3 linked regions of the Homo sapiens genome follow. The protein of the gene in region 1 interacts with the protein of each later gene in a pairwise test. Each region holds a gene or a part of one and is shown in the gene's direction. Other genes may lie near its edges.

What was found. The genes of interacting proteins can lie anywhere in the genome.
Region 2: the proteins of GABPB1 (region 1) and POGZ interact in binary tests that used the Homo sapiens proteins (3 or more experiments, as listed by UniProt).
Region 3: the proteins of GABPB1 (region 1) and PPIA interact in binary tests that used the Homo sapiens proteins (3 or more experiments, as listed by UniProt).

The regions. Positions count from the first base shown.
Region 1 is NC_000015.10:50,303,190-50,310,224, reverse strand, and holds part of GABPB1 (GA-binding protein subunit beta-1 isoform beta 2), read left to right. Parts: intron 1-426; coding exon 427-534; intron 535-6,091; coding exon 6,092-6,259; intron 6,260-7,035.
Region 2 is NC_000001.11:151,456,488-151,463,409, reverse strand, and holds the start of POGZ (pogo transposable element with ZNF domain), read left to right. Parts: upstream 1-3,915; 5' UTR 3,916-4,258; exon of another isoform or gene 4,259-4,350; coding exon of another isoform or gene 4,351-4,370; intron 4,371-6,922. UniProt on the Homo sapiens protein: Plays a role in mitotic cell cycle progression and is involved in kinetochore assembly and mitotic sister chromatid cohesion.
Region 3 is NC_000007.14:44,799,653-44,803,624, forward strand, and holds the end of PPIA (peptidyl-prolyl cis-trans isomerase A), read left to right. Parts: intron 1-49; coding exon 50-222; intron 223-1,634; coding exon 1,635-1,770; 3' UTR 1,771-3,465; downstream 3,466-3,972. UniProt on the Homo sapiens protein: Catalyzes the cis-trans isomerization of proline imidic peptide bonds in oligopeptides.

The DNA.
Region 1 (7,035 bases):
GCTACTTGGGAGGCTGAGGCAGGAGAATCACATGAACCCAGGAGGCGGAGGTTGCAGTGAGCCAACATCGTGCCACTGCACTCCAGCCTGGGTGACAGGCCGAGACTCTGTGTCAAGAAAAAAATAAATAAATAAAAATTTAGGCCAGCTTTTCTCTGCTACTTACCTCTTCTATCTTTTACCAGATGTATTTGGAGAATTTAAACTACTTTTATTCTAAGTAAAAACTTAATGAGAAAGGAAAATGGATTCTAAAATCCAAATATAAATTGCTTTTGTATGATCTGTAATTTTAAATTAACCATAGCACACTCTTTTGAAGGGATAATTGAGAACTGACTTATTAATAAAGACAGGAAGGGAAAATGTCATGTCATAGTGTATAAATGGAGATTTTGATGTTCAGTTCATCTATGTTTTGTTTAGATGTCCCTGGTAGATTTGGGAAAGAAGCTTTTAGAAGCGGCACGAGCAGGTCAAGATGATGAAGTTCGTATTTTGATGGCAAATGGAGCTCCCTTTACTACAGACTGGGTAAAGAATGATTTTAATATTGTGTGTTCTTTTTCCTTCTCATTTTTGAGTTTTTGCAGAGAAAAATGTAGTCAGTATTGTGTTTATAAGTGGTAAAAAGTTATTATTTTTGCAAATGTGTTTATTATTTTAGAATTATAACTGTCCTAAAAGAAGTGGTTTATATTATTTTCTTTGATATTGGACAACCTTATCCAAATATTTCATCCACAAAGAGTTTTTCTTTCAAACTGTGGAGTGCATTAATGTGGCATGAATATAAAAATGTATCTGCTTGGGATTTAATTTAAAGGCCTTATAAATAGCACAGGTAGAATTTATAATTCAGAAAGATACTGATAAAGATTGGAGTTAGTGTTAATAGTCACTCCTAAAAGAAAAACAAGTTTATGTTTCAATTATTACTTGTAAAACTGTTGCAGACATGACGAAAGAGGAAGAAAGGAATGGGAATGAGATCTTGACAACTATGGAAAGAAGGTAGTTGTGGGGAAGGCAAAAAAAAATAACTCTTTAATTCTGGGGGCAAATAAAAAAGTATTGTCTTGTGGATATGGAATGCTAGGAATCTGAATTAACCTGCCCATTGGTAACAACTAAAAATTCCAGATTTTTGATTTTGCCGTTTTTGCCTTTCTTTCTCTTTTTACATTTTTCATGAAAAAACAAAATTTTTTATTATAGAAAATTTCAAATATATATCAACGATATCCCTGTAATACCCTTTACCCAACTTCAAAAATTATCAAATCATGATGAATATTGTTTCCTCTATAACTCTGTCTACTGTATTATTTTTTGTTCTGTATTATTTTAAAGCAAATTCCAGGGACCATATCATTTTATCCATAAATGTTTCTTTAAAGAATAAATAAATCTTTAAAGAATAAAGACTTTTTGATGAAATATTTTAAAGAAAGTCTTCTTAAGTACACTGCTGAATTAGAAAGAAAGAGATTATCAACCTGAAAAACTAAGTGAAGGCAAGAACCCAGAGAAATTTTACCCTAAAGAACATTAGGTGAACTCACACTTGTCTGGTGGTTTTTCCACCTCACTGGCTTGGGGTACTAAAGCTAAAGACCTGAGAGTGTTCATGGAGAGAAGTCTGATAGGAGATCTTATCTCATAATTCTGGAATCCCAAAGAGCTGCACCTTCAGTGTAGGGATAAAGCAGGAATACCCTGTCCCTCCTCCTGTCTGCTCCTGCCCTTGCCCCTGTTGCCGTGATGCTGCAAAGATAATAAGCTGATGTGAACCAAGACATCAAATGGAGAGAGGAAAACAATCTGATGGTGAGAATTTGGAATCACAAGGCATCCTTTTTACACACTTGCAGCCTGAACTCATAAATACTTGTGTAGTCTAAAAAACTGTAAACTGAGAAATGAATTTGAAGTGATCTTTGGACTAGGGATTACCCCAGGCTCTTGACAGAAGCAAATGAATATCTGCTCTGGAGGAACCTGCCTTCATCCCAGGCTTCATATCCACAAATGAAATTCAAAGGAAAGTGAGCAGTCAGAAATAACTAAACACATGAACACATGCCAATTTGGACAGTAATCTGCTAAAACAACTGTCAACAGAAGCAGACCTATAAGGACTTGAGATAAAATTTTAGTAACAGATTAGAAACAGCTAAAGAGAAAATTAGTAAACTGAAAGGTATGAAAAAAAAAATGATCCAGACTATGTCACAGATAAAAATAGATAGAAAATGTAAAAGAGATGTTAGGAATCATGAAGGATCATGTGAGAAAGTCTAACATCTGATCATAGATCCACAAAAAGAGCAAAAATAGGGATGAAATAATTCAAAGAGGTAATTGCTGAGAATTTTCCAGAACTGATGAAAGATGGCAGCCCACAGATTTGAGTAGCCTAACAAATCTCCAGCAGGATCAATTTAAAAACTAATCTATATCTAGATATATCATAGTGATGCTGTAGTACCTCAAGACAAAAAGATCTTTTTTTTTTTTTTTGAGATGGAGTCTCACACTGTTGCCTGGGCTGGAGTGCAATGGTTCAGTCTCGGCTCACTGCAACCTCCGCCTGCCGGGTTCAAGTGATTCTCCTGCCTCAGCCTCCCAAGTAGCTGAGATTACAGGCACCCACCACCAAGCCCAGCTAATGTTTTGTATTTTTAGTAGAGATGGGGTTTCAATATGTTGGCCAGCTGGTCTTGAACTCCTGACCCCGTGATCAGCCCGCCTCGGCCTCCCAAAGACAGAAAGATCTTAAGAAGGATTAGTATCCATAATACATAAGGAATTCCCATGGGTTAGCAATAAAAAGACAAGGCAATAGAAGACTGACTGGATATGGTGCTTTACCAAGGAGAAAGTTTGATCAATAAACATGAAAAGATACTCAACTACATTAAAATTGGGGCAAATGCAAAGTAAAATCATGAAATACTATTATATATCCACCAGATTAGCAAAAACAGTTGAGCAGTACCAAGGCTTGGTGAGGAGATGGTGGGAACTCTCAAATATTTTTGGTGGAAGTATGGAATTGGTATAATCGTTATGGAAGACAGTTTGGCAGCACATAGTAAATTTGGAGATGTGCATAGTATATGATGTAGCAGTTGGGCTTCTAAGACTATTCCCGAGAGAAGACTTGTTCATGTGCCTGAAACATATACAAGACTACTGTATTTAGCAGCAACATTATTCATAATAACACAAAAACTGGAAACAATCTAAATGTTCATCAGTAGATTGGTTAAATTAATTGTGGTTTACTCATTCAATGGAATATTATAGAACACAGAAAATTAGTAAGCTATACTTACAGTTATTAACATGGTGAATCTCATGAATACAGTGTCAAGCAAAAGAAGGCAAGTCACAGAGAAATACATGCAGTATAATTCTGTTTAAATAAAACTCAAAACAGGCAAAACCAAAGTATATTTTTTAGGGATAAGTGATACAAAGAAAACTAAGTAATGCTTGTCACAAAATTCAAAATATTAGTTACCTCTGGGGCTGGGGGAGGGGCTTGTGATCAGGGAGTGGCATGTGGGAAGATTTTTTTTTTTTTTTTTTTGAGACAGAGTTTCGCTCTGTTGCCCAGGCTGGAGTGCAGTGGCATGATCTTGGCTCACTGAAGCCTCTGCCTCCCGGGTTCAAGTGATTCTCCTGCCTCAGGCACCGAAGTAGCTGGGATAACAGGCGCCCACCCTCACACCCAGCTAATTTTTTATTTTTAGTAGATGAGGTTTCACCATGTTGGCCAGGCTGGTCTCGAACTCCTGACCTCAGGCAATCCACCTGCCTTGGCCACCCAAAGTGTTGGGATTACAGGCGTGAGCCACTGCGCCTGGCCAGATTTTAAATTACTGGCAGTGTTTTATTTCTAGACTATGGTGTTGATTCACAGGTGTTTGCCTTAAACTACATATATTGGCTGAGCACAGTGGCTTACGCTTGTAATCCCAGCACTTTGGGAGACTGAGGTGGCAGATTATTTGAGGCCAGAAGTTCAAGACCAGCATGGGCAACATAGACCCCATCTCAAACAAAAAGAAAAAAATTAGTCAGGCATGGTGGCTCAGCCTGTAGTCCTAGCTACTCTGGAGGCTGAGATGGGAGGATTGCTTGAGCCTAGGAGTTAGAGGTTACAGTGAGCTACGATAGCTCCACTGCATTCTAGCCTGGGCGACAGAGCAAGAAGCTGACTCTAAAAAAATGAATAAAAAAAAACCCAAAAAGCTACAAAAACTACATGGCCAGGTGTGGTGGCTCATATCCATAATCCCAGCACTTCGGGAGGCTGAGGGAGGAGGATCGCTTGAGCTCAGAAGTTTGAAGGTACAGTGAGCTGTGATCACCCCATTGGACTCCAGCCTGAGTGACAGAGTGAGACCCTGTCTCAGAAAAAAACAAAAAACCCTGCATATATGTATATATATTTTGTGTCAATAACCAAGAAGGGAAAGTCTCAGAAGACAAAAATAAAAAAGTAGATCCTAATGTCAAACTGAGCAAAGCTCCTGGTTGCTAAATGGGCTGTTGAGATATTTTCATTAAATACTGAAATTTAAGAGTATAGAAAAGGCTAGTTAAAGAAAAATTGACAAAGCATGGAGAAAGAAAGGATTGTTTAAGGATCTTCTTTGATCTGCTGGGATGACCTTCTCTTAAAAATGTAAGGTTTAGCTGGGTTTGTTGGTGTGTGCCTGTAGTCCCAGCTACTCTGGAGGCTGAGGTGGACAGATTGCTTGAGCCCAGCAGTTCAAAGCTGTAGTGTGTGATAATTGTACCTATGAATATCCATTGCACCCCAGCCTGGGCAACACAGTGAGGCCCTGTCTCTAATTAAACAAACAACAATTAAACAAACAAACAAACAAAAAATATATCTATCTCTCTATCTATAGATAGATAGATAGAGAGATAGGACTAAGGACCTTTATACATATATCTCACTTAATCTCTTCATAACATAATAAACTGTTTATATGTGTAAATTTCCTTAGTCCAAATATCTTAGTTCTTTGGAATATCAAGTGATGTGGTAATCAGAGGGTTATAGGGATTTTCTGTGCCTTTAAATGCATGTGATAGAACTTAATCTTCCTTCCCTCACATTTTAGTACTCCCTCTGTGTATTGTGGATGTCAATTTAATGACTAGACCACATGGAACCAATTTCAGGAGAATTGGGCTCTGTTTTGGTTTTGTCCTGATTCAACTTTGGCAAATGCACCTAAGATTTTTCCTTTGAAAAAAATCCCTTTAAAAAGATCACTGAGATGTTTCAATACGTGAATTTTTTAAGACCTACAAAACAATTTTGATCCACTTAAAGTAAAAATGTACACTGTTACATTTATTTGAGATGAATTTTACAGACGAAGTTAACTTAGCAAGTTTTGTGTGATTGGTATGAGGAATACATTCTAATACACAGAAAAATTTCTCAAACTCTATCTCTGATTTCTTTTTTTTTTTTTTTTCTTTAGACCAAAATCTCGCTGTGTCACCCAGGCTGGAGTGCAGTGGCGCGATCTCGGCTCACTGCAACCTCTGCCTCCTGGGTTCAAGCGATTCTCCTGCCTTAGCCTCCTGAGTAGCTGGGATTACAGGCACATGCCACCACGCCTGGCTAATTTCTGTATTTTTAGTAGAGATGGGGTTTCACCATGTTGGCCAGGGTGGTCTTGAATTCCTGACCTCAAGTGATCCACCCGCCTTGGCTTCCCAAAGTGCTGGGATTACAGGCGTGAGCCACCACGTTCGGCCTCTATATCTTAATTTCTAATGAAATTAATTTTGTTCAGGCAGTTTATCTGATAAAAAATAATGAAGAAAGAAAGTTTGAATTAAAGGAAATACTGGATTTTCTTCTTCATTGAGAGTGTTTGGGAATTCTTCAAGATGTCTATGAAGAGGATGTGATAAGCATGAATCTAGGCATTTCTTTTGAGTTTTGAGTTGCTATGTAAACAGATAATGTAAAGAAAATCTGTTTACTATATAAACAGAAGTGTAGTAACAATAATGTAAATGTGGATTTTTTTTTTTTTCTGTGGTACAGCTGGGAACTTCTCCACTTCATCTAGCAGCACAGTATGGTCATTATTCCACCACAGAGGTACTGCTGCGAGCTGGTGTGAGCAGAGATGCCAGAACCAAAGTGGACCGAACACCATTACATATGGCAGCTTCTGAGGGCCATGCCAGCATAGTAGAGGTTTTACTTAAGGTATGTGTTCTCTTTTTGCACTTTGCTTTTAAAATACTTTACGGTTTTATAAGAAGGAGAGGGAACTAGTTTTTGTTAAATGCCTACTTAGTATTTTATCTATAGTATTTCATTTTTTGTGTGTATAAGCCCATTAAATGAAAATTGTCTTATAGCTTTCATTTCATGAGGGACAAAACTTCATTTAGGTATATTCTTAGTTAAATCAGCTAATTGATTTCTTGGACCTTGGTCTATCTTATGATGAGGGACTACAGCATTTTTTCTTTTTGTTTTTTTTTTTTTTTTGAGACAGAATCTCTGTCACCCAGGCTGCAGTGCAGTGGCACGATCTCAGCTCACTGCAACCTCCACCTCCTGGGTTCAAGTGATTCTCCTGCCTCAGCCTCCCGAGTAGCTGGGACTACAGGCGCCCACCACCATGCCCAGCTAATTTTTGTATTTTTAGTAGAGATGGGGTTTCACCATATTGGCTTGACTGGTCTCGAACTCCTGACCTTGTGATCCGCCTGCCTTGGGCTCCCAAAGTGCTGGGATTACAGGTGTGAGCCACCATGTCCGGCCCTTAATTTTTTGTATTGTAGAGATGGGGTTTTGCCATATTGCCCAGGCTAGTTTCAAACCCCTGAGCTCAGCTGATCCAACCGCCTCGGCCTCCCAAAGTGCTGGGATTACAGGCGTGAGCCACTGCACCTGGCCTGGAACATCTATTTAACATATACATATAAATAATTGACTACATTATTTGTTCTTGCTTTAAAGCACAGAACTAATAA
Region 2 (6,922 bases), on another chromosome or scaffold:
ATCCAGATGGTCCAAAAGAGAGACCAAAGCTATCAGTTCTGTTACTTCACTCTGGAAACCTGTGTTTTAGCTGAAGAAGCAAAATGTTCCAACACTGTCCAAATTAATATGAGCATTCTCTCTTTAGCACAAGGAATACGTTTCTGGAAATAGCAGTGTTAACTGTATAGTCTCTTTTGAAGTGCTGCACCAGTGTTGTAATGTAAGGTGGCAGAGTTTCCTTGAAATCTTCTGAAGGTATAAAATGTCTTTGCTCATCATTTCCTTTTTTTTTTTTTTTCTTTGAGATGGAGTCTCACTCTGTCACCCAGGCTGGAGTGATGTGGTGTGATCTCGGCTCACTGCAACCTCCACCTCCCGGGTTCAAGCGATTCTCCTGCCTCAGCCTCCTGAGTAGCTAGGACTACAGGCATGTGCCACCACGCCTGGCTAATTTTTGTATTTTTAGTAGAGATGGGGTTTCACCATGTTGGCCAGGCTGGTCTCAAACTCCTGATCTTGTAATCCACCCACCTCGGCCTCCCAAAGTGCTGGGATTACAGGCATGAGCCACCACACCTGGCCAGGATACCTTTTACAACGTCAAAAGACACTCCATTCCCTAATTGCCTGTTGATCTTTACCCTCTGTTTCCTCACCCATTTCCTCAAAGGTGCCTCCAGATCCTGCAAAACTCCCACTTTTACATTTAGCATGATAGACTTTCTGTATTCTTGGTGGCAGGCATAGCACCATCACTCATTTTATTGGGCATTATGGGTCAAAACTGTCTCCCAGGGCACAAACTAAATGACAGAAAAATAGAGAGGAGTAAGTAACACACCACAGAACTCAATCACCTGAAGCAGCAGCTTCACAACTCCCATCCTGGTCCAAGCTACCATCAACTCTCACCTGGATTATTGCAATAGCCTTCTATCTGGTCTCCCTGCATCTGCCCTTGCCTCTATTAGTTATTCTTCACAAGCAGCCACAGTGATCCTTTAAAAACGTGAGTCAGGCCGTGTCACTACTTGCTTTATGATCCTCCAGCAGCTTCATTTTCACTACAGGTAAAACCTAAACTTTGCTTCACTTTCTTCAGGTCTTTGCCCAAATGTCACCTTAACAAGGACTTCTCCAATCACCCCACATAAAATAGCAAATTCTCCACCCCCATGTCTGCACCACACTCCTAATTCCCCTATCCTGCCCTTTACCCTTCATAGCACCTATCACCATTTCATATAATCCATATTTATTTACATAATGTATATCAGATTGCATTTTCCAAGATGGCCACAAGATTTCCCTTTCCGCACACTTTCTTACAATGTGACATTTCCACTATTCCCGTTGAGAGATGGGGATCTATGCTCTCCATCCTGTAACTGTAATGGAAGTAACACTATATGACCTCTGAGACTAGGTCACGATCTCTGTCTGGTCCTTTTGGGGCACTCAGTCTTGGAACTCAGCCACTATGATATGAGGAAGCCCAGGCTACATGGAGAAGCCACTTGTAAATGGTCTGCCAACAACCCCAGCTGCGGTCCAAGCCAACAGTCAACCTCAACTTCCAGACATGTAAGGAAGCTTTTGAGATTACTTCAGCCCTAGCCACTGCATACGAGACTCCCAAGTGAGAACTGTTTAGCTGAGCCTAATTACCTCCCAGAACCATGAGAGGTAATGAAATTGTTGTTTTAAGCCACTAAGTTCGGGGTCATTTGTTATTTAACAATAGACAATAGAACAATTTGTTTATGTGTATATTTTATGTCTCTTTCCTTCTAGAGTATAAATCCCACAGATTCAGGTATTTGTTGTTGTTGTTGCTGCTGTATTCCCAGCACCTAAAACAGTGCCTAGTACATGTGCTCAATAATTTTTTTTTTTTTTTTGAGACAGGATCTTGCTCTGTCCCTCCCAGGCTAGAGTGCAAGTAGTGTCATCATAGCTCACTGCAGTCTCAAACTCCTGGCCTCAAGTGATCCTCCCAAGTCTTCCAAGTATCTAGGAATACCACAACCAGCTAATGAAAAAAATTTTTTGGGGCCAGGCACGGTGGCTCACGCCTGTAATCCCAGCGCTTTGGGAGGCGGAGGCGGGCAGATCACGAGGTCAGGAGTTCGAGACCAGCCTGCTTGGTGAAACCCCGTCTCTACTAAAAACAGAAAAAATTAGCCAGGCATCGTGGCGCACGCCTGTAGTCCCAGCTACTCAGGAGGCTGAGGCAGGAGAATTGCACCCAGCAGGCGGAGGTTGCAGTGAGCCGAGATCGCGCCACTTCACTCCAGCCTGGGGGAGAGAGCGAGACTCTGTTTAAAAAAAAAAAATTTTTTTTTGTAGAGATGGGATGTTGCTAAGTTGCCCAGGCTGCCCTCAGACTGCTGTGATCCTCCTCCCTTGGCCTTCCAAAGTGTTGGGATTACAGGTGTTAGCCACCATGCCCAGCCCCCAATAAATATTCATTGAATGAATGAATGGATGCATGATCCATTTTCAATAAAGCATGCTAACAGTTACTGGTCAACGGTATATGGCATAGTCTGCGCTAGATCTCATTGGCTGGGAGAATAAATTGACAGGGCATGGGGAAATATGTTGGAATTTTTCAAAGGTTAATAACGTAATATACATAATGTAAATATAACATATATAATGAATTATACTAATTACACGACAGTATAAAATAGGATTTGAGTTTCATGTAGTCTTTTGGTGATTGATCCCATAATCCTAATATGGGCTTCTCCAGATCAGGTCTGGAAAGTCTTCAGAAGTATTTTCAGAAGGATTTAGTGATTCTTCTCATTCAAATAATGAAGTCCTTCCTAAGCATCCTACACTAGTGGAAATCACTCACATGGTTTTGGTATGAAATGGAATGAAACTGGGTGGTGGCAGTGTGTGTATGTGTATGCACATGTGCACACTCACACGGGCAGGTGCATACAATTTGGAATGCCTACTTCCACTGCCTATTTTCAGTCTGGTGGTTTGAATGGAGTGTGTATATAAAGAGCACAAATAAACATAGTTCTGGATTTCCCCTTTCTGCACCAAGTACCTTGATTTCACATTTGGTTTGAAGCAAATATTTGTGTATTGCTTAAATAGCAAACATTTTCAAATATTCAAGGAAAATATTACATTTTTATAATCTCAGAAGGCAATAAAGGACAAAATTTCTTAGCTACCTGAAAAGAGGTAGTTTTTGTCTGGGGAAGAATAAACAGGTGGATGGTCGTTTGAGTGGACTAACCAATTTCTTTGAGCCAACCCATCTCAGCCTTGATTGGAGCAAAAAGCATAAGGATGTGGAGTGTGTGTGGTTTCTTGGAACTGGGGATCTCTGCTGAATCTACTCACAATGGGAGCAAAGCAGTTTCCATCACAATAATCGCTTTAACAATCGTGTGCCACTTCTTTCCAGGATCCAGAAGGGCTTGAGGATCAAAATGGCTTTTAAAAGTTCTTCACTTAAACAAGGCCGCAGCCACAAGGTTACTTGGCCGAGTGTCTCTTGAGAAAGAGTGAGTGCCATTTTGTTCTTTGTTCCAATGACAGTTGTTGGTGCCACTGGGCCTCACCACCTGGCCTGTGTCATGAAGTCTCCCTCTTGACTGGGTCTAAGCCTTGAGTGGAAAGTGGGGGAGCCTCCCAACACTTCCTTGGAAACTCTTGGCAAGTAAATTGGGGAATATTTTCTTTGGAAGTCTCATTTTTCTCACCAAAATTTAGATATAGCTTCTGAAGCTAATTATTCTTTTTTCATTACAAAAAATGTTTTCCTTTATTTATTTATTTGCAGGCCCAGCCAAACTTGACTAGAAAAGAAGCCCGGGCAGGGGTTTGGATGAGCCCATGACGTGCAGCGCGCTCCGACCAATTGGGAGGCCGTGAAAAAGGGGAGGGCGGAAGTGACGAGCCGTATCCCTCCGCGGGGCGAGAGGGTCGGTGGGGGGAGTCGGCGTCTCTCTCCCCCGCGCCAGCTCCCGTACACGGAGCCGCATTCCTTGGCCCCCCCACCCCCCTCCCTCGGGGCCCCCCCGCCCCCCTCGGGAAAAAAATCCACCCCGAATCACTCGAACCCGAGGGAGGCTTCCTTTCACCCTTGGGGAGACGAGCTTTCAACGGTTACCTCTTCTTCGTCTCCCCCCAAGCCCCCGTCCCCTCCCCCTGCTCCCACCCCCTTCTGGCGCCGGGTGTAAGGTCCCTTTAAGGCGACGGCGCCTTCCTCGGGTCAGACTACCGGCGGCGACGACCACAGGAGGTGAGTGAGCGAGCGAGCCTTCTCTCTCCCCACCCCCTGCTCCCGGGGGTTCCGTTATCTTTTCGCTCGGCGAGGCGTTCAGAGGCGAGACAATGAGAGGGGGATGGGGCCGGTACGCGCGGGGGTGGGGGCGGGGGGCCGGCGGTGCGCGCCCCCGCCCACCGCGAGTGGCGGCGCGGCCCGCGGCAGGGGCGGCCGCGGGGTGCGGCGCGCGAGCGCGAGTGTGTGTGCGTGCGCCCCGGGCCGCGGGAGCCGCGCGAAGGGCCGGCGGCGGAGGTCCCTGCCTGCCGGCTGGCCGGCCGCCCCCGCCCCCCGGCGCCCGCCGCGGCGCGCGCGCGCGCACTCGCGCCCCACGGCCCCGCACACAGCCCGACGTCCACACGCACGCTCGGCGCGAGGCGTCTCGGAGGAGTGGGCGGCGCGGGCGCGGGCGGTGGCCCGCTGGGGAAGGGGCGGGGGCGGGGGCGCGGGCGGTGGCGAGACGGCGGGGCGCGGCGGGAGGGGCCGGCGAGGGGGCGAGGCCGTGCGGCGGAGGGGCGGGCGGCGGCGGAGCGGCCCCTGGGGGTGGGGGTGCGCGGCCCTCCCCGCCCCATTCCCGCTCCGAGAAGGAGTGGGGCGCTCGTTTTGAGCGGGAGGAGGAAAATGAGTGATTGCTGAGCCGATCCCTTGTGTTATGTAATCTCTGCTTGGTCTAATAGTACATCCTAAGCCTTAGTGCACTGCAGCTAGTTTACGAAGTCTCCTCCCTCGGTCCCCAAATTTCTTTTGGGATGGCGCCGTGATTTATAAAATGGAATGAGGCGGGGAATCTTTATTTTCTGGTGATTATGTCCTGCCGCGGTGGGCGCCATGTTTATCCCGGGGACTATTTTATTTAGATTCTTGGCACCTTTTGCAAAGGAGTACTGTCATTGATCTATTTGTTTTCCGTCTTTCTGCGTGTTGTTCTTATTTCCTTCCTCTCCAGATGTGGGATTCTCTCAAACTGCTAGTAGCACTTGTCTTAGACATTCTTAGTTCAGAAAAAGGTAGTGCTGATGAGTCCTTAGAGTCATTTAGTGGCCAGTCTCATTTTCGAAATGGAAACTAAGATGCAGTTGGACTATCTCACAGCAGCCGCCGTCTTGATGCAAGCGGTGTAGCCCGTCCTTCCAAGCCCGTAGACACCTCTTACCGCCGCTCAAAACTCCACAGAAATGGGGTTTTACTTTTTTTTTTTTTTTTGAGACGAAGTTTCACTCTTGTCGCCCAGGCTGGTGTGCAGTGGCACGATCTCTGCTCACTGCAACCTCCGCCTGCCGGGTTCCAGTGATTCTCCTGCCTCAGCCTTCCTAGTAGCTGGGATTACAGGCATGTGCTACCACGCCCGGCTAATTTTTGTATTTTTAGTAGGGACGAGGTTTCACCATGTTGGCCAGGCTGGTCTTGAACGCCTGACCTCAGGTGATCCGCCCGCCTTGGCCTCCCAAAGTGCTGGGATTACAGGCGTCAGCCACCGCGCCCGGCCGGGTTTTACTTCTGTAGGCATTTACCCAACTAGAGGAAAGGGAAACGGAGGGGGCAGGGAGGGCTGCTCGTTGGCAAACGATTAATTTTGAGACACTATTGCTCAGGGTCTGAGAGCTTGAACTCTGAATTCGAACTGTTAGCACAATCGTTCTCAACTTCGGGGTGCATAAAAAGTAACTTGAAGGTGGTTAAACGTACAATTTGGGGGGCCTCATCCCCCAAATTTATTTGAATGGAGCAGAGGGGGGTTGTCATCTTTACATTTTCAAATGAGCAGTCCTGGGGCTGAGACTGATTAATGTAACCACTACATTGAGAATTACTGGTCTAACATAAAAGTGTTCAAGATGTTGAAACAAGTGACACCTTGTGCCGTTGATTTCCTTCCCTTTTCCAGAGCTGTGTTGGTGGTGTATCTCAAACTAAAGGAGGTAACAGAATGGACTCTTGGGACGAACCTGATTTAGTTAGAGTTTCCACTCCCATCTTGAACTAGTGGTATAATGTAGGAAAGCAGTTCTCAAAGTGTGGACAGATGACCCATGGGGATCTCCTCTTACCCTTTCAGGGTAGCCTCAAGGTCATAACTATTTTCAAAATAATAGTAAGATGCTATTTATTGTTTTCACTGATACACTGATGGTTCAAAAGCAAGGCTGGGTAAAACTACTGGCGGTACCTTAGCACAAAGCAAGTCAGGGGCACCAAACTACTTGAGAATGCCCTTGAAGCAGTAAAATTTATTATTCTATTTTTATTTTTTTGAGGCGGAGTTTTGCTCTGTCGCCCAGGGTGGAGTGCAGTGGCACTATCTCGGCTCACTGCAATCTCTTCCTCCCTGGTTGTATTTTTAGTAGAGACAGTGTTTCGCCATGTTGGCCAGGCTGGTCTCGAACTCCGGACCTCAGGCGATCCACCTGCCTCGGCGTCCCAAAGTGCTGGGATTACAGGCATGAGCCACCGTGCCCGGCCTATTATTATTAAGTCTTAGCTTTTGACTACATGTCTTTTTAATTTTTAAGAATTTGTGATTAAATAAACATGGATAAAGCATTTATGCTGCCTAGGGAGGTGTGATTGTTGTCATGAAGGAAAAGCATTTGTGAGATTGGGTTGTGAATGAATGGCTTATTTCATGGAGTAGCATTTTTACTT
Region 3 (3,972 bases), on another chromosome or scaffold:
ACTTCATGGTTATGTTGTCAGAAGTGACATTTTTCCTATATGTTGACAGGGTGGTGACTTCACACGCCATAATGGCACTGGTGGCAAGTCCATCTATGGGGAGAAATTTGAAGATGAGAACTTCATCCTAAAGCATACGGGTCCTGGCATCTTGTCCATGGCAAATGCTGGACCCAACACAAATGGTTCCCAGTTTTTCATCTGCACTGCCAAGACTGAGTGGTAAGGGTACAACATGGCACACTAACCACCTGACTAAATGAAAAGTTGCCCTGGGGGGAACGGAACAAACACTACTTTTCTTCAACCTTTGCTTCCACAGACTTTTTCATCCCTAAGATACTAGAAGAAGAGCATACATAAACGACAAATATAGCCAATGTGATACAGAATGTCAGATACTATGATAGAAACTTGGCCCTTAGCTGGGTGGTTGAATTAGGTGCTACTTTTTTGAGATGGAGTTTTGCTCTGTTGCCAGGTTGGAGTGCAGTGGCACAATCTGGGCTCACTGCAACCTCTGCCTCCTGGGTTCAAGCGATTCTCCTGCCTTGGCCTCCTGAGTAGCTGAGAATACAGATGTGTGCCAGCATGCCTGGCTAATTTTTTGTATTTTTGTGGAGACGGGGTTTCATCATGTTGGCCAAGCTGGTCTTGAACTCGTGACTTAAGGTGAACCACCTGCCTTGGCCCCCCAAAGTGCTGGGATTTCAGGCATGAGCCACTGCGCCCAACCAATTAAGTGCTTTTTTTTTTTTTTTCTTTTCTCAGACTGGATCTCGCTCTTATCTCCCAGGTTGGAGTGCAGTGGTGCCATCTCAGCTCACTGCAACCTCCTCCCGGGTTCAAGCAATTCTTCTGCCTCAGCCTCTCAAGTAGCTGGAACTACAGGCATGCACCACCACTCCCAGCTAAATTGTGTATTATTAGTAGAGCGGGATTTACCATGTTGTCCAGGCTGGTCTCGAACTCCTGGGCTCAAGTGATCTGCCTGCCTTGACCCCCCCAAAGTGCTGGGATTACAGGCATGAGCCACTGTGCCCACCCAATTAAGTGCTGCTTTTATGTTACTATTAATAACATGCGGTTGGTTGGGTTTTTTGTTTCTTTGGGGTTTTTGTTTTGTTTTGTTTGTTTTTGGGGGAGGGGGGCGCAATTCATTCTATATGTGTAACTCTTTTTTGAGATGGAGTTTCGCTCTGTCGCCCAGGCTGGAGTGCAGTGGCGCGATCTCGGCTCACTGCAAGCTCCGCCTCCCAGGTTCACGCCATTCTCCTGCCTCAGCCTCCCGAGTAGCTGGGACTATAGGCACACGCCACCATGCCCGGCTAATTTTTTGTATTTTTAGTAGAGACAGGGTTTCACCGTGTTAGCCAGGATGGTCTCGATCTCCTGACCTCGTGATCCGCCCGCCTTGGCCTCCCAAAGTGCTGGGATTACAGGCGTGAGCCACCGCACCCGGCCTATATGTGTAACTCTTTAATGGTAATTGGAGAATCATGTTTAATGACATTTAGTACAAAAGGCTTCAGTTAAAAAAAAAAAAAAAAGCTACCTTTCTCGTCTTGGTTCATGACACATGGAGGCTGCTTGTTTGTGGTTGCCAGTCATAGTGATTGTTCTTCCTTTTCAAGGTTGGATGGCAAGCATGTGGTGTTTGGCAAAGTGAAAGAAGGCATGAATATTGTGGAGGCCATGGAGCGCTTTGGGTCCAGGAATGGCAAGACCAGCAAGAAGATCACCATTGCTGACTGTGGACAACTCGAATAAGTTTGACTTGTGTTTTATCTTAACCACCAGATCATTCCTTCTGTAGCTCAGGAGAGCACCCCTCCACCCCATTTGCTCGCAGTATCCTAGAATCTTTGTGCTCTCGCTGCAGTTCCCTTTGGGTTCCATGTTTTCCTTGTTCCCTCCCATGCCTAGCTGGATTGCAGAGTTAAGTTTATGATTATGAAATAAAAACTAAATAACAATTGTCCTCGTTTGAGTTAAGAGTGTTGATGTAGGCTTTATTTTAAGCAGTAATGGGTTACTTCTGAAACATCACTTGTTTGCTTAATTCTACACAGTACTTAGATTTTTTTTACTTTCCAGTCCCAGGAAGTGTCAATGTTTGTTGAGTGGAATATTGAAAATGTAGGCAGCAACTGGGCATGGTGGCTCACTGTCTGTAATGTATTACCTGAGGCAGAAGACCACCTGAGGGTAGGAGTCAAGATCAGCCTGGGCAACATAGTGAGACGCTGTCTCTACAAAAAATAATTAGCCTGGCCTGGTGGTGCATGCCTAGTCCTAGCTGATCTGGAGGCTGACGTGGGAGGATTGCTTGAGCCTAGAGTGAGCTATTATCATGCCACTGTACAGCCTGGGTGTTCACAGATCTTGTGTCTCAAAGGTAGGCAGAGGCAGGAAAAGCAAGGAGCCAGAATTAAGAGGTTGGGTCAGTCTGCAGTGAGTTCATGCATTTAGAGGTGTTCTTCAAGATGACTAATGTCAAAAATTGAGACATCTGTTGCGGTTTTTTTTTTTTTTTTTTCCCCTGGAATGCAGTGGCGTGATCTCAGCTCACTGCAGCCTCCGCCTCCTGGGTTCAAGTGATTCTAGTGCCTCAGCCTCCTGAGTAGCTGGGATAATGGGCGTGTGCCACCATGCCCAGCTAATTTTTGTATTTTTAGTATAGATGGGGTTTCATCATTTTGACCAGGCTGGTCTCAAACTCTTGACCTCAGCTGATGCGCCTGCCTTGGCCTCCCAAACTGCTGAGATTACAGATGTGAGCCACCGCACCCTACCTCATTTTCTGTAACAAAGCTAAGCTTGAACACTGTTGATGTTCTTGAGGGAAGCATATTGGGCTTTAGGCTGTAGGTCAAGTTTATACATCTTAATTATGGTGGAATTCCTATGTAGAGTCTAAAAAGCCAGGTACTTGGTGCTACAGTCAGTCTCCCTGCAGAGGGTTAAGGCGCAGACTACCTGCAGTGAGGAGGTACTGCTTGTAGCATATAGAGCCTCTCCCTAGCTTTGGTTATGGAGGCTTTGAGGTTTTGCAAACCTGACCAATTTAAGCCATAAGATCTGGTCAAAGGGATACCCTTCCCACTAAGGACTTGGTTTCTCAGGAAATTATATGTACAGTGCTTGCTGGCAGTTAGATGTCAGGACAATCTAAGCTGAGAAAACCCCTTCTCTGCCCACCTTAACAGACCTCTAGGGTTCTTAACCCAGCAATCAAGTTTGCCTATCCTAGAGGTGGCGGATTTGATCATTTGGTGTGTTGGGCAATTTTTGTTTTACTGTCTGGTTCCTTCTGCGTGAATTACCACCACCACCACTTGTGCATCTCAGTCTTGTGTGTTGTCTGGTTACGTATTCCCTGGGTGATACCATTCAATGTCTTAATGTACTTGTGGCTCAGACCTGAGTGCAAGGTGGAAATAAACATCAAACATCTTTTCATTATCCCTAGTATTTCTTATTCCATTAATTAACAGAATAGCCTCACCACGTTGTCATTAACTGCTTTTATTCATCCAAGTATTTAACTTTTTTTTTCTTTTTTATTTGAGACAGTTTGGCTCTTGTTGCCCAGGCTGGAGTGCAATGGCACTATCTCCACTCACTGCATCCTCTGCCTCCCAGGTTCAAACGATTCTCCTGTCTCAGCTTCCAGAGTAGCTGGGATTACAGGTGTATGCCACCACACCCAGCTAATTTTTTGTATTTTTAGTAGAGTAGGGGTTTACCATGTTCATGGCCAGGCTGGTCTCAAACAGACCTCAGGTAATCCGCCCGCCTTGGGCTCCCAAAGTGCTAGGATTTCAGGCGTGAGCCACCGCGTCCAGCCCCATTCCTTTTTTTTTTTTTTTTTTAATTTCTCCAGTGCCCAGCGTGATCCCTGACATCTGGTATTAGAGTTCAATACTTGGGCCGGGCCTCGGTAATCCCAGCACTTCGGGAGGCCAAGGC